Homo sapiens: one gene and its partners. The protein of the gene in region 1 purifies or fractionates together with the protein of each later gene. This does not show direct contact. Each region holds a gene or a part of one and is shown in the gene's direction. Other genes may lie near its edges.

Region 1 (3,500 bases):
GATGCTCATATATATTGTGAGCCTCTAGCCCATGTAAGTCACAGCAAGCTAGCTCTTGGGTTTTTTTTGAGATGGAGTTTCACTCTGTCACCCAAGCTGGAGTGCAGTGGCACGATCTCGGCTCACTGCAACCTCCACCCTCCGGGTTCAAATGATTCTCCTTCCTCAGCCTCCTGAGTAGCTGGGACTATAGGTGCCTGCCACCGCGCCTGGCTAATTTTTTGTATTTTTAGTAGAGATGGGGTTTCACCATCTTGGCCAGGCTGGTCTTGAACTCCTGACCTCGTGATCCACCCGCCTCGGCCTCCCAAAGTGCTGGGATTACAGGCATGAGCCACCGCGCCCGGCCACTCTTGTGTTTTTTAAACATGACCACATTAGTCTTTTAGTCCTTATTTGCTTTAGGCACAAGAAATCTGAGGCTTACCTTATATTTGTCTTGTTCCAAATTTGGATTATCAGCTAATTCTCCAAGGAGCCCTATACCTTTTAAGGGGAGTGGGATTTATTTAATTTTTTCTTTGGAGTCCTTCTAGCCAGTGAATGGAATTTATTATAGAATCCATTGTTACTGAGCTGTCATTGTTTCTAGGCCATTTTAGTGGACATAGCTAGGAAATACAATTTTAAAAGATCATGAATTCAAATTAATATTTACAACTAAAATTTAGCAACATGGCCAGGTGCAGTGGCTCATCCCTGTAATTCCAGCACTTTGGGAGTCTGAGGTGGGAGGATCACTTAAGGCCAGGGGTTCAAGACCAGCCTGGGCAACAGAGTGAGATCCTGTCTCTACAAAAAAAAAAAAAAAGATAAATTTTTTCGAAAAGTTTTATATGAAAAGTGTACTCTGAAAAAATCTAGCTGTCATACCTATCCCTCCATTCCTAACCATCTCTTATAAGTAATTATTATCCATCTCTTATAAGTAATTATTATAAGTATTTTCTTAGTTTTCCAATTTATCTTTCATGTGTTTCTTTTTAAAAAGCAAACAAATATGCATATTGCTGTACTTACTGTGCCTCTTTCACAACATGGGGTCTTTATAAAATTTCTTTGGATGTTTAGAAAGGTTTGTATGCTCTAATTTATACTGATAACATTTTATATAATGCATTTAGAGTCCCCAATTTGCTTGTCTAGGCCTCTACTATTTAATTTGACACCTTTAAATGATGTTCTTTGACTCTTATCTAATTGTCTATGTGACCGTCAGTGAATATATTATCTGTTCATATTTTCTGTAGTCTTATTTCTTTTTGATTAGAACATATAATATTTACACACTATTTTCCCATCCTAATCCCCACCTTTGTAATAAAATTAATTAAAATTTTAAAAAAGTATATTTAATAACCTACTGATACTTACCTGAAGTCTCTCTGGTCAACTTTTGGCTGGATGAAGCTCTTCTGTAGAGTATTCAAGGAGGGCTTGTAAGTACTGTACAATATTCTCTGAGTTGTGACATGTTTAAAATTTCTTCTGGAGCCTAGATACTTAAAGTACACCTTGGCCATGTAGAAAATCCTTGACAAACATTTCCTTTTCTTGAGTTTGTCTGAATTTGTGCTTCACTGTTGGGTTGCTTGATGTTATCATCAAGAAGTGTGGCACCACTTGATTTTTTTCCCTTTTGGAAATGACATTTTGTTTGTTGTTTTTTACCTAGAGACCCAGATAATTTTTTCTATATTATTTTATCTATGATCCTTTTTATCTCATTTTTGTTCTCATAGCTGTTTTATTCCTCTTCTCTGTATTTCTTACTTTACTTTTATTTGTGTCTCTCAGGTACCCTGTGATTTAGTTTTCATTTTTAGATGATTTTATCTTTTCAGTATATTGCCTATGTTTGTTCAACTCTCATTTTACATCTTACTATTGAGTTTAAAAATTTTTATTTGCTGTGTTCTTTTATATGTGCAATTAATGATATTCATGTTGGAGTGTTGTATATTATTTGCCTCTGCTTCATATTGTCTAGAGGGTAGTATTTTCTATTGATTGAAAAGTTTTCATTTTCTGTTTTTTATAATAGCCTTGTATGGATTTTTGGTGGCTTTTCTATTCATGATTAAATGTGTAGGATCTTCTTCAATCAGCAATAACAGGTGGCTCTATAGAATGGAGGGTAGAAGGGATGTGGGTGACTTACTCAGTTTTTAGTTAAAGAGGACCCTCTTCTGTTAGCATGGTGAAGTGCAGTTTCTTTAATAAATTGTGCATGGTGGGGGTGGGATTTGGATTCTGTGATACAATCTTGTTTCTTTAGGAATCTTTTACTTTTGGCCACTTGCCTTTCTTTCCAAGGAATCCCACTCCCTTTCAAGGTGCCTCATGAACTGTTTTCATGAACTTTCCAAACATTGGTTTCTGCTTGTTTCTAAGCCTGATTCTTGGCCTTCTCATTAATTTTCAAAACTTCCAATATCCTTCCAAATAATTCCCTTTTGCTTACGTTAGCGAGTACTAGTTTGTTAGCCAGTGTTAGTTTCTGTTGATCCTAACCAAAAAACCCTAACTGAGATATCAGTCTCTTAGCGCAAAGTTTGTGAATACGGTCATCCCTCCATATGAGGAGGGGAGTGGGAATTGGTTGTGGGACTTCCGTGGATATCCAAATCAGTGGATGCTAAAGTCCCTTACATAAAATGGCATAGTATTTGGTTATCATCCTCCCCATACATCATCTCTAGATTATTTATAGTACTTAATACAATGTAATGCTGTGTAGTCATACTGTATTTTTTACTTGTATTTTTGTTGTTTTGTGGGATTTAAAAAATATTTTTATTCTGAGGATAGTTGAATCCACAGGATACTGAGGGCCAGCTGTATTCACAACCCAAATCACATACAAAGCGACAAGTTCATACACAATAGGCCTATTAGAACAGGACTGTTCTCTCTTGTTTATCATTGCAGCCTTTCTAGCACAAAGCCTGGGACATTCTGGACATTTAGTATGTGTTAAATTTCTCTTACTACATTATTTCCAACAGTATTTACTGCAATCTGCAATTACCTTCCTTTTGTTTTGTAACTGTGTCCCCCACTAGAATGTAAGCTCTGTGCAGATAGTGTCTCATTTATTGATGTATCCCTGGCATCTAATAAAACACTGACAACACAAGCACCCAGTAAATATTTTTTGAATGACTGAACAATAACCAGTTCATAAGGCTGATAAAATTGGTATAGCTAGATGAAGTATGATTTTGAGGGACTATGAAAATCAAAGTAACCACACAATAAATTATCAGCCCTCTACTTCCATTCAAAACAAGCTCCTGGGAATTGAATTATGAAATCTATCATATTACTTTCTCTAAAGAACTTCAAGTTGGGTGTCAACTAAAAAGTTGCAGGCGAGGCGCGGTGGCTCAAACCTGTAATCCCAGCACTTTGGTAGAACTGAGTATCTCTTGAGGCCAGGTTTGAAACCAGCCTGGTCAACATAACCAGACTCTGTCTTTACAAAAGAAAAATTAAAA
Region 2 (3,500 bases), on another chromosome or scaffold:
TAGAGAGCGTCTGAGCGGGAGGGGTAGTGGCCTGAGCCAGGTCAGGGCTTTCGGGACACAGAGAGGAGGGCATGGGGCAAAGACTCAGGGGGCAGGAAGGCAGAGCTTGGGGCTTGATGAGGGTGATGAGGGAGAGAGGGGGTGCCGCCATCGGTGGATGGCTCCGGGACGTATGCTCTGCTGACTGGGACACAGTGGGGCTGTCCCTGAGATGGAGAGCTCAGGAGGGCAAGCAGGTTTGGGAAATGTCGCTGAGTGCAATGTGGGAATCTGTGCATATGAGCGGCCTAGGGGGACCGAGGGGCATGTGGGGACTGAGATTGGGAAAGGTCTGGACTAATGTCCAGAATCTGAGAGGTCCGAGTTGTAGCTGGTAATTGAAACTGGAAGTAGGTAAGACGTCACAGGGAAAACAACGTGTAAAGTCAGGGGAGTTGCAAACTGGCAATTCTATAGCCAATTGTGTGCGTGTGTTTGTGTGTGTGTGTGTTTAGAAGAGCATTTAAAAATATCTGTCTTCTGTCTCTCTCTCTTTTTTTTTTTTTTTTTTTTTTGAGACAGGGTCTTGCTCTGTTGTCCAGGCTGGAGTGGCACGATCATGGTTCACTGCAGCCTTGACCTGCTGGGCTCAAGCGATCCTCCCACATGAGCCTCCGGAGTAGCTGGGACCACAGGCATGCACCACCATGCCTGGCTAATTTTAAAATTTTTTGTAGAAACCGGGTCTCCCTTTGATACCAGACCAGGCTGGTATCCAACTCCTGGACTCAAGTGAGCCTCCCACCTCACTCTGCCTGCCAAAGTGCTGGAATTACAGGCGAGAGCCACCATACCCGGCTACCTCTTTTTTTTTTTTGAGACGGAGTCTCGCTCTATCACCCAGGCTGGAGTGCAGTAGTGCGATCTCGGCTCACTTCAACCTCTGCCTCCTGGGTTCAAGCGATTCTCCTGCCTCAGCCCCCCGAGTAGCTGGGATTACAGGCACCCACCATCACGCCTGGCTAATTTTTGTACTTTTAGTAGAGACAAGGTTTCACCATGTTGGCCAGGCTGATCTCGAACTCCTGACCTCAAGTGATCTGCCCACCTGGGCCTCCCAACGTGCTGGGATTACAGGTGTGAGCCACTGCTCCTGGCCCTGGCTACTTCTTTCTGTTGAGTTACTTGACTGGCCTCTGCACACATTGGGTTTGAGAATCATGTAGGGAAGGCTTGCACTGGGAACACCTACACTCAAGGGAGGTGAAAAGCAAGAGAAAGCCACAAACAAGTCAGGCATGAAGCAGCCGGGGCGGGGAGGAAGGCCAGAGGGGCAGGGGTATCCTGCCAAGGAGAGGGTTTCCAGAATGAGAGCCTTTCAGCTGTAGCCAGGGCCACTTGTGATACAGTCAGATGAAACCTGAATAAGGGCCGTTGTATATGGAGCCAGGCAGGAAATTGATGATTTTTATCAAGAACAATTTCAGGCCAGGCACAGTGACTCACAGCTGTAATCCCAGCAGTTTGAGAGGCCGAGGTGGGCTGATCACTTGAGGTCAGGAGTTTGAGACCAGCCTGGCCAATGTGGTAAAACCCCATCTCTACTAAAAATACAAAAACTAGCCAGGTACTGTGGCACATGCCTGTAATCCCAGCTACTCAGGATGCTGAGGCACGAGAGTCGCTTGAGCCCAGGTGGCAGAGGTTGCAGTGAGCTGAGATCGTACCACTGCATTCTAGCCTGGGAGACAGAGCGAGACTCCATCTCAAAACAAAACAAAACAAACAAACAAACAAAAAAACAATTTATTTCAGTTTCTGTGGCTCCACCGAGGAAAGAGTGTAGGAGGCAAGCTGTGCAGAAGGAATGGCTCCTAGCACTGAATGTCAGAATTTTCCACGATTTTGGAAACGTTCTATGTCTACATCCAATATGGCAGTCCTGGCCACAGGGGGCTACTGGGCACTTGGAATATGGCCATTGTACCTGAGAAACTGAATTTTTTTTTGAGGTGGAGTCTCGCTCTGTCGCCCAGGCTGGAGTGCAGTGGTGCAATCTTGGCTCACTGCAACCTCCGCCTCCCGGGTTCATGCCATTCTCCTGCCTCAGCCTCCCGAGTAGCTGGGACTACAGGCACCCGCCACCATGCCAAGCTGATTTTTGTATTTTTAGTAGAAACAGGGTTTCACCATGTTGGCCAGGCTGGTCTCAAAGTCCTGACCTCAGGTGATCCGCCCACCTTGGCCTCCCTAAGTTCTGGGATTACAGGCATGAACCACTGCACTTGACCTGAATTTTTTATTTGATTTAATTTTAACTTATTAGAACAGAAAGAGCTCCATGGCTACAAAGAACCCATGCAGCTATCACATTGGACAGTACAAGCTCCAGACTATTCCGTGAAGAGCTTTTATTTTATTATTATTATTTTTTTTTTTTTTTGAGGCAGAGTCTCATTCTGTTGCCCAGGCTGGAGTGCAGTGGCACAATCTCTGCTCATCACAACCTCCGTCTCCCAGGTTCAAGTGATTCTCCTGCCTCAGCCTCCTGAGTAGCTGGGACTACAGGCGCGTACCACCATGCCCGGCTAATTTTTGTATTTTTAGTAGAGATAAGGTTTCACTATGTTGGCCAGGCTGGTCTCGAACTCCTGACCTCATGATCCGCCCGCCTTGGCCTCCCAAAGTGCTGGGATTACAGTCATGAGCCACCATGCCCGGCCTTATTTCTTATTTTTAGTGACATGGTCTTGCTCTGTTGCCTAGCCTGAACTGCAGTGGTGTGATCATGGCTTATTGCAGCCTTGAACTCCTGAGCTCAAGTGATCCTCCTGCTACAGCCTCCTGAGTAGCTGGAACCACAGGCGTGCACCACCACACCTGGCTAATTAAAACAATTTTTTTTGTAGGGATGGGGTCTCGCTCTATTGCCCAGGCTGTTCTCAAACTCCTGGGCTCAAGCAGTCCTTCTGCCTTGACCTCCCAAAGTGCTTGGATTGTGCCCAGCCGTCCTTGAAGTTTTGCTCAGAAGAGCAAACTTTCTGGGAAGTAGCTGCAGGTGTTGGAAGTAGCTGCAGGGGAACTAGGGGATTCAAGGATGGAGCTGAAATGGGTGAACGGACAAAGTCGGTAAACTGAGGCATGCCAGGGCCCTGGAGGTAGACTCAGGAATGAAGAAGACACTTTATTGTAGTTCTCACTGTGCCAGGACCTGGCCTAAGTGTGTTTGGTTCATCCCATGTGTGGATCAGTTAGCCGTTCTTTTAGTGTCTTTACGGCTTTTGCCAAATCCTTGTAGCACCTCTGCTATCCCTTCTGTAAAATTGCTCTTAAATCTGCTCACTAGGTTTGTGTAAATACAGGTCTCCCCTGATATCTGAACTCCTGGAATCTGGAACAAAGAATTTAGATACATTTTTCTCCTTCTTTCTTCCTTTCTCTTTCTTTTCTTTTCTTTTCTCTCTCTCTTTCTTTCTTTCTCTCTTTCTCTTTCTTTCTCTCTCTTTCCCTCCCTCCCTCCC
Region 3 (3,500 bases), on another chromosome or scaffold:
TTAGGATTTCTTTCTGTATTTTGATTTCCTGTTTTTTATTTTCTTACCACCTGGAAAATTTCTTCCAATCAAGACTTACCCTGTGCCCTGCTACAGCTTCTTGTATTACACCTGTCCCAGTCAGTCTTGAAAAGCAAGACAGATTTTTTTTTCATTTTGCTATTTTAAGCTACAACTGGCCACCACAGTCGTATTTATGAGACTTTACCTTAAAGCTTTTCACCCCATATCCTGTGCCTAGGTATATAAAGAACACAGAGGCCAGGGCTTGGTATCTGCCACTGAACAGAGCATCCCGGATTTTTATTTTTCCCCTGGTTGCTGTTTGAAGCTTTCATGTCTAGTTTTCCCTCATCTTCACTGAGTCACCTTTAAAAATAGCTTTCTAAGTGGAGCCACCCTGGTAGGATAAATATATATGTGTGTGTATATTAGAACATATACAGGAGAAATATGTGTGTGTGTGTATGCGTGCAAAAGAAAAAAATATATATGTATGTATTTTTCATTTTGGATAAAGCACTCATTCACTATTCATTGAATCTGGATTGCCAGTACAGTGATATGTGGGCTAAAAACTAGAGAAAAGATAGTAATCTAAATTCAAACCAAAAGAATATACAAATTCAAAATACTCACTAATTCAAAGGGGTTAGATAAATTCACAGAATCTTATATGGATTTATGAAATGGGAGTTAAGGTTCAGGCACACCTTGGACTTTAGAAGTTGGCTTCATGGAAGGCACGTTCTCTGCTATTTCACTTTCCTGGGTCCACTGTAAGACACCAAAGTCTATGTTGTATTGTTCTGACCAGGTGTATTTTTCCTCACCTTTCATATCACTAAATTACCTTTGAAAATTATAAAATAAACCCAGTAGCCCAGAATAGTTGAAATGATCCAAAATTCTTAAAACACTCATGAACAAAATCTAATCTAAGTGTGTAGTAGTACAGGTGGAACATCCAGAATGCTCCAACATCTGGTCATGATGTGAAGTGAAAGAAGCCAGGCACAGAAAGACAAACTTTGCATGTTCTCATTTATTTGTGGGAGCTAAAAATTAAAGCGATCACACTCATGGAGATGGAGAGTAGAAGGATGGTTACCAGAGGCTGGATGGAAAGTGAAGACGTAGGGGAGAAGAGGGGATGTTTAATGGATACAAAAAAAAAAATAGAACAAATAAGATCTAGTATTTGATAGCACAACAGGGTGACTGTAGTTAATAATAATTTAATTGTACCTTTTAAAATAACTAAAAGAGAACTGGGCACGGTAGCCCACACCTGTAATCCCAACACTTTGGGAGGCTGAGGCGGATGGATCACTTGAGGTCAGGAGTTCAGGACCAGCCTGGCCAACATGGTGAAACCCCGTCTCTACCAAAAATATAAAAGTTAGCTGGGCATCGTAGTGAACACCTGTAGTCCCAGCTACTCGGGAGGCTGAGGCAGGAGAATCACTTGAAGCCAGGAGGCAGAGGTTACGGTGAGCCAAGATCGCGCCACTGCACTCCAGCCTGGGTGACAGAGCAAGACTCCACCTCAAAAAATAAAATAACTAAAAGAGTATAATTGGATTGTTTGGAACACAAAGAATAAATGCTTTAGGTGTTGGATACCTCATTACCCTGATGTGATTATTACACATTCTATGCTGGTATCAAAATATCACATATATACCATGTTACCCACAAAAATTAAAAATTTTTTAAATCTCCAGAATCTGAAACTTTTAGAGCACCAACATGATGCTCAAAGGAAATTCTCATTGCAGCATTTTAGAATTTTGTATTCGGGATGCTCAACCTGTACATCAGAAGAAAATCTGAAACCCCAAACACTTAGGGTCCCAAGTGTTTCAGATAAGGGATGCTTAGCCTGTAATAATATTTCCTTAATCTCTGTGCTCAGTTGTGACATTGAAAGATCGTCTCCACTATTTTCTGAGTTATAAGAGTTTTCTGCATTATTTCTATGCTCTAAATTAACCATAATTGAGGAGTTGCACAGGTTAGGACTCTCCTATCAATTTAGAATTACAACTATTCTAAAAGAGCAGTTGGTCGTTATCACAATTTGATGTTTTTCTGATACTGTGGAAATTATAGGATATAGAGGAAAATGTCATTTTAAAGGACTGAATGGGAAATTGCCTTTAAACTAAGGCCTGTATCTTTAATAGACATATAGAGAAAAGAGCATGGAGCTCTGAAGTGACCAGACTAAAGCTTAATTCGAGTTCCAATTTGTTCAAACTGGCTGAGGAAACTTGAGCAAGACACCTGTCCTCTTAAGCTCTGTAAAATGGAACTAATAATCACTTGTGAAGAATAAACAAAAAAAAAAATCTCAGAGATGTTTAACCCACTGCCCAGCATTATAAAAACCTGCAAAAAATGTTTATTTTCCTCCCATTTACTTGGGGTTTAGGAACTGATGCTTTTCTTCTGCCTAATAGTCCCCACTTAAAGGGGACTCATGTTTACTTCCTCTCCCTCCCCCATTTTACTCATCACCCTGTTTGTTCTTCATTTAATTCAGTGATTTAATCCATTTCGTTTAACAACCCACATTTGGGTCAGGCACTGTGGTACACGCCTGGAATCCCAGCACTTTGGGAGGCCAAGGTGGCAGGATCGCTTAAGGCCAGGAAGTTGAGACCAGCCTGGGCAACATAGTGAGACCTCATCTCTACAAAAAATACAAAAATTAACCAGGTTTGATAGCACGCACTGTTGGTCTCAGCTACTCAGGAAGCTGAAGTGGTAGGATAGCTTGAACCTGGGAGGTCAAGGCTGCGATGAGCTGAGATCACACCACTGCATTCCAGTCTGGGTGACAGAGCAAGAGCCTGTCTCAAAACAAAACAACCCACATCCACGGCACTTGGAAATGTGCTGGAAGATAGTAGAGTCTCATTAAATATTGGTTGCCTGAATGAATTGGGCAATGTCACGTGTCTGTGCACTGGGTACATAGCAGTGAATAAGACAAGGCCCCTGCCACTGTGGAGCTCAGAGTCTTGTGGGGGAAAATAGCAGTTAAACAACAAAGGATAATCAAGTGTGAAACGCCTTGTGATAGAGAAAGAGCAGGGCACTCTGACCTCTACCACGGAGATGTGGGCTCAGTCAGGGAAAGAGACCTTCTTGAGTCAATGATGTGTGACCCAAACCCTAGACCCGAATTGATTAGTGTTTGACCAATGACAGCTCCAATCTCCATTATTCACTTACCCCACACCCAAAAAACATCAATACTTTTGAGGCCTCTGTAACATTGTTTCAGTGTAGTCTTACCCAGTATCCAAATGGAGTACCACTGTTTCCTCTTCTGTAAAATGAGGACAATAAAACTACCTACCTCATAAAGCCAGTTTAGAATACTTTTAATGCTATATAAGAATTAGACATTATTTTAACAGTAAATACCACAATCATGTCTTTGTAATAAAGGTGGCTTCTTCATGGAGCAGATCTGAAAAGATGGGTTA
Region 4 (3,500 bases), on another chromosome or scaffold:
TTCTCCTTGCCCACTGCCTACACAGAGCTGATTTATCAAGACAGGGGAATTGCAATAGAGAAAGAGTTTAATTCACAAGGAACTGGTTGTGCGGATAAAACACAAGACCAGATGAGCCAGTTTATCAACCTAGGTACTGCCAACGGGGTGCTGCCAACCATCGAGGACAGGGTCTATAAAATATCTCAAGCACTGAACTTAGGTTTTATAATAGTGATGCCTAAGCCATAATTTCTAATCTTGTGGCTTATTTGTTAGTTTTGCAAAGGCAGTCCAGTCCTCAGGCAAGAAAGGGGCTTATTTGGGGAAAGGGCTGTTACCATCTTTGTTTCTTTTTACTTTTTTTTTTTTTTTTGACACAGGGACTCACTTTGTTATGCAGGCAGGAGTGAAGTGGCACAGTCTTGGCTCACCGTAGCTTTGAATTCCTCAGCCCCCCAAGTAACTGGGACTATAGGCATGTGCCACACATCAGGCTACTTTCTGTATTTTTAGTAGAGATGGGGTTTCACCAGTTCCAGGCTGGTCTGGAACTCCTGGGCTCAAGCAGTCTGCCCACCTCAGCCTCCCAAAGTGCTGGGATTACAAGCATGAATCACCACACCCGGCCGCGTCTGTTTCAAAGTCAGACTGTAAACCAAGTTCCTCCCAAAATTAGTTCGGCCTATGCCCAGGAATGGACAAGGACAGCTTGGAGATTAGAAGCCACATGGAGTCAGGTCAGATCTATTTCACTGTTATAATTTTCTCAGCTATAATTTTTGCAAAGTCAGCTTCAAAATCCCTCAGTAAATGGCAACTATTATAATTATTATCAGCAGCACCATAGGGAGAAGGACTGGATCAGTACATACCAAAAATCACAATAATCATATTGGGGTTGCGGATAATTTTTTTTCCGAAGTGTTGCAGTTGGAAATCCATGATGGATTTTGACCGCATGTATCTGAGCCTCTTCCCCTAGTCTCGCCCCGCTTCCGTACCCTGACTTCAGGGTTCTTTCCAGTTGCTCTGCCTGAGCTATACCATTCGTTCCCACACAGCACAGAATGTCTTCCTTGTCATGGAGGCTCTGTGCACAGTAGCGTGTTGTGAATGAGGCTGGTTGATATTATATTACACTTCTCTGAATAAAATGCCACCTTGATTTGCTCATTCTCAATCGGCAGGAGTCTTATTTCACCTCTGTAGGTCTTACTAAGTGTGTTTAGTTTTCAAAAGAAACCAGTGTTTCCCTAGTACTTAACATGGGTTTATTACATTTTTTTGACAAAAATTCAAAATTACATATATTTTGTTCTTCATTAGCAAGTCACACATTTTAAAATGGCACACTCCCTTCCTCTTCGTGTTGTTATTTGTTTATTTTAAGGACTGTTTCTGGGTAGATAAGCTCTGGGTTATTTTAAAATACATTTTACAATGGAAATGGCCTGGACTTGAACTGAAAAGGAAACATTATCTGTGTTATTTCAGACACATCAGTGATCAGTTTAGAAGATAGGATGATTTCACTAAGCTTATAATTCATCTTAAAGCTCACCTAAATAAAAGTAAGTGACTAAAATGATCTTTTTCTTCCAGGAGAGGTAGGATTAATTAATTGTATAATGTGTGGAATATTTCAGCGCTTATCTGATTCTTCCATCTTAAATCTTTGAGAGTTTTTAAAAAATTATGTGTCCATTACTGTTTATATCACATAGACATATTTTCATTTGTCTACTTAAAAATGTATTTTTAACAAAGTTTAAATAGCTGCTAGCTGTAATGTATAACTGCTGAGTTATAAGATGCTTTCCAGAATTATAAAGTCATAAACCATTGTGTGGAAACAATGAACCTTTCAGAACCAAAGAAAAGGTCAACACTATGAAAGGACTATCAAAATAATGCAAGTGTCCTATCTCTCCTTACCTGGCAGAAGCAGCATAAAGACATCAGACACTCCGTGTTTGTTCAGAGGTGGAAAAAGGCAGAAGAACAAGTTTCTTCCTAGGCAGGGGATTGTTTACTTGGCTTATTTAAATCACAGTTACTAGTCCTCACTCTTAAGTGACTGGAAAAATGGGACACGTCTTCTCCATAGTTAGCAATAGCATGTAAAAAGCAATTGTGCTTAATTCCTCATAATGTGTTTTTTTTTTAAAAAAAAAAAAAAAGGCATCTTCCCTTTGTGGCTGGCAGCAGCATTCTCATTCAGAAAAGCCGCATCTCTAAGAGCCCCAGACCCCTCACATAAATCCCCTTGTTCCTGGATGATCAAGGTCCGGCTGCTTTTTCTCGCTTTCCAATGAGATGCAGACAGACTGGGAAAGAAGGGAGTTTATTTCTGCAACTGGTGACAGGAAGATGGTGGGAGTGACTCACCAGACCAACTCAAAGTTACAAGTTTTTCTTCAGTGTTTATTTACATTCAATTCAACCTCTATGCCTGTGTGAGAGTGTGCACCTACAAGCAGGAGTGTTTCATTCAGTCTAATCTTTAGGGTCTGGGGTCTGGAAAGTCTCTAGAGCCTTGGAAAATTTTCTTTAATCTTAAGTGGCCTTGATACAAGGTATATGTGTAAGAATGCCTTCGATCAGATGTTAGGGTCTGAGAAAGTCCAGGCGAGGTCTTAATGTATTTGTTTTCACATTCCAGGCCTTGTACTCAGGCACCAGTTTCTCCAGCTTGAATGTTTAACTTATGCATTCATCAGAATTACAGGAAAGGGTTAGTGGAAACTGGCTGCTCTGGTTGCTGATGACAACCTGTTGCCACACCCTGGTGCTGGGCATTGAGGGAACCACTAGAAGAGAAGAGAATCCTGGAGGGTTAGGTCCTAAACATCTGAAAGGCAATGGTAACTTGCTGAAGGGTTTTTCCTACTCGCAGAATGACCCCGTCAGATTAGCTTTCCAGAAGAGTCATTTCAGCTGCAATGTATCAAGAGTGGTCACCTTTTGTTCCGTAATGAGACACTGAGGTGGGATTGCAGTAAGCCCCGAAACTCAAGCACTGGGATGTGTGGCTTGGCCCTTTAGAAGTTTGTGTAGGTAGCAACATTGGCCCCTGTGGAGGAAAGTGATGGGCTCGAAAGCAGGAGGAGAGGCGGTGCCTTGCAGCACTGTGCAGGGTGAGCCAAAGAGGGGCAAGCCCAGCCAGCACTCGAACCAGAGCTTTGGCACTGAAGGAATGGGGAAGTGGATGCCAAAGAGGGCGTGGTACACAAACCTGTAGAGTTTTTCCAGTTCTGTTGCTGTTTCTTTAAAATATGTGTGCATTTGGGTGAATTTACTAAGAAGCTTACATCAATTAAAATTTTGGTAACTATGCTCTTAGAAATGTTTTCTTTGTACAGCTTATCCTTTCGGTCATCCCTGTAGCAGCTGTCAGTAAAGTATTAATATTGAAATAAACATAATTAACCTTATATTATTTAGTACCATTCTAGGTTAAAGGTAAATATAGGCTGGGTGCAGTGGCTCACACTTGTAATTCCAGCACTTTGGGAGGC

The links. Proteins that work in one complex are often made in the same cells at the same time.
Region 2: the proteins of SLC35A3 (region 1) and TRPM4 purify together in Homo sapiens (affinity purification with mass spectrometry; one large-scale study listed by BioGRID and IntAct). This does not show direct contact.
Region 3: the proteins of SLC35A3 (region 1) and JPH1 purify together in Homo sapiens (affinity purification with mass spectrometry; one large-scale study listed by BioGRID and IntAct). This does not show direct contact.
Region 4: the proteins of SLC35A3 (region 1) and LRP11 purify together in Homo sapiens (affinity purification with mass spectrometry; one large-scale study listed by BioGRID and IntAct). This does not show direct contact.

Annotation. Positions count from the first base shown.
Region 1 is NC_000001.11:100,032,496-100,035,995, forward strand, and holds the end of SLC35A3 (UDP-N-acetylglucosamine transporter), read left to right. Parts: 3' UTR 1-3,139; downstream 3,140-3,500. UniProt on the Homo sapiens protein: Transports diphosphate-N-acetylglucosamine (UDP-GlcNAc) from the cytosol into the lumen of the Golgi apparatus, functioning as an antiporter that exchanges UDP-N-acetyl-alpha-D-glucosamine for UMP.
Region 2 is NC_000019.10:49,160,792-49,164,291, forward strand, and holds part of TRPM4 (transient receptor potential cation channel subfamily M member 4), read left to right. Parts: intron 1-3,500. UniProt on the Homo sapiens protein: Calcium-activated selective cation channel that mediates membrane depolarization. While it is activated by increase in intracellular Ca(2+), it is impermeable to it.
Region 3 is NC_000008.11:74,238,041-74,241,540, reverse strand, and holds part of JPH1 (junctophilin-1), read left to right. Parts: intron 1-3,500. UniProt on the Homo sapiens protein: Junctophilins contribute to the formation of junctional membrane complexes (JMCs) which link the plasma membrane with the endoplasmic or sarcoplasmic reticulum in excitable cells.
Region 4 is NC_000006.12:149,854,360-149,857,859, reverse strand, and holds part of LRP11 (low-density lipoprotein receptor-related protein 11 isoform 1 precursor), read left to right. Parts: intron 1-3,500.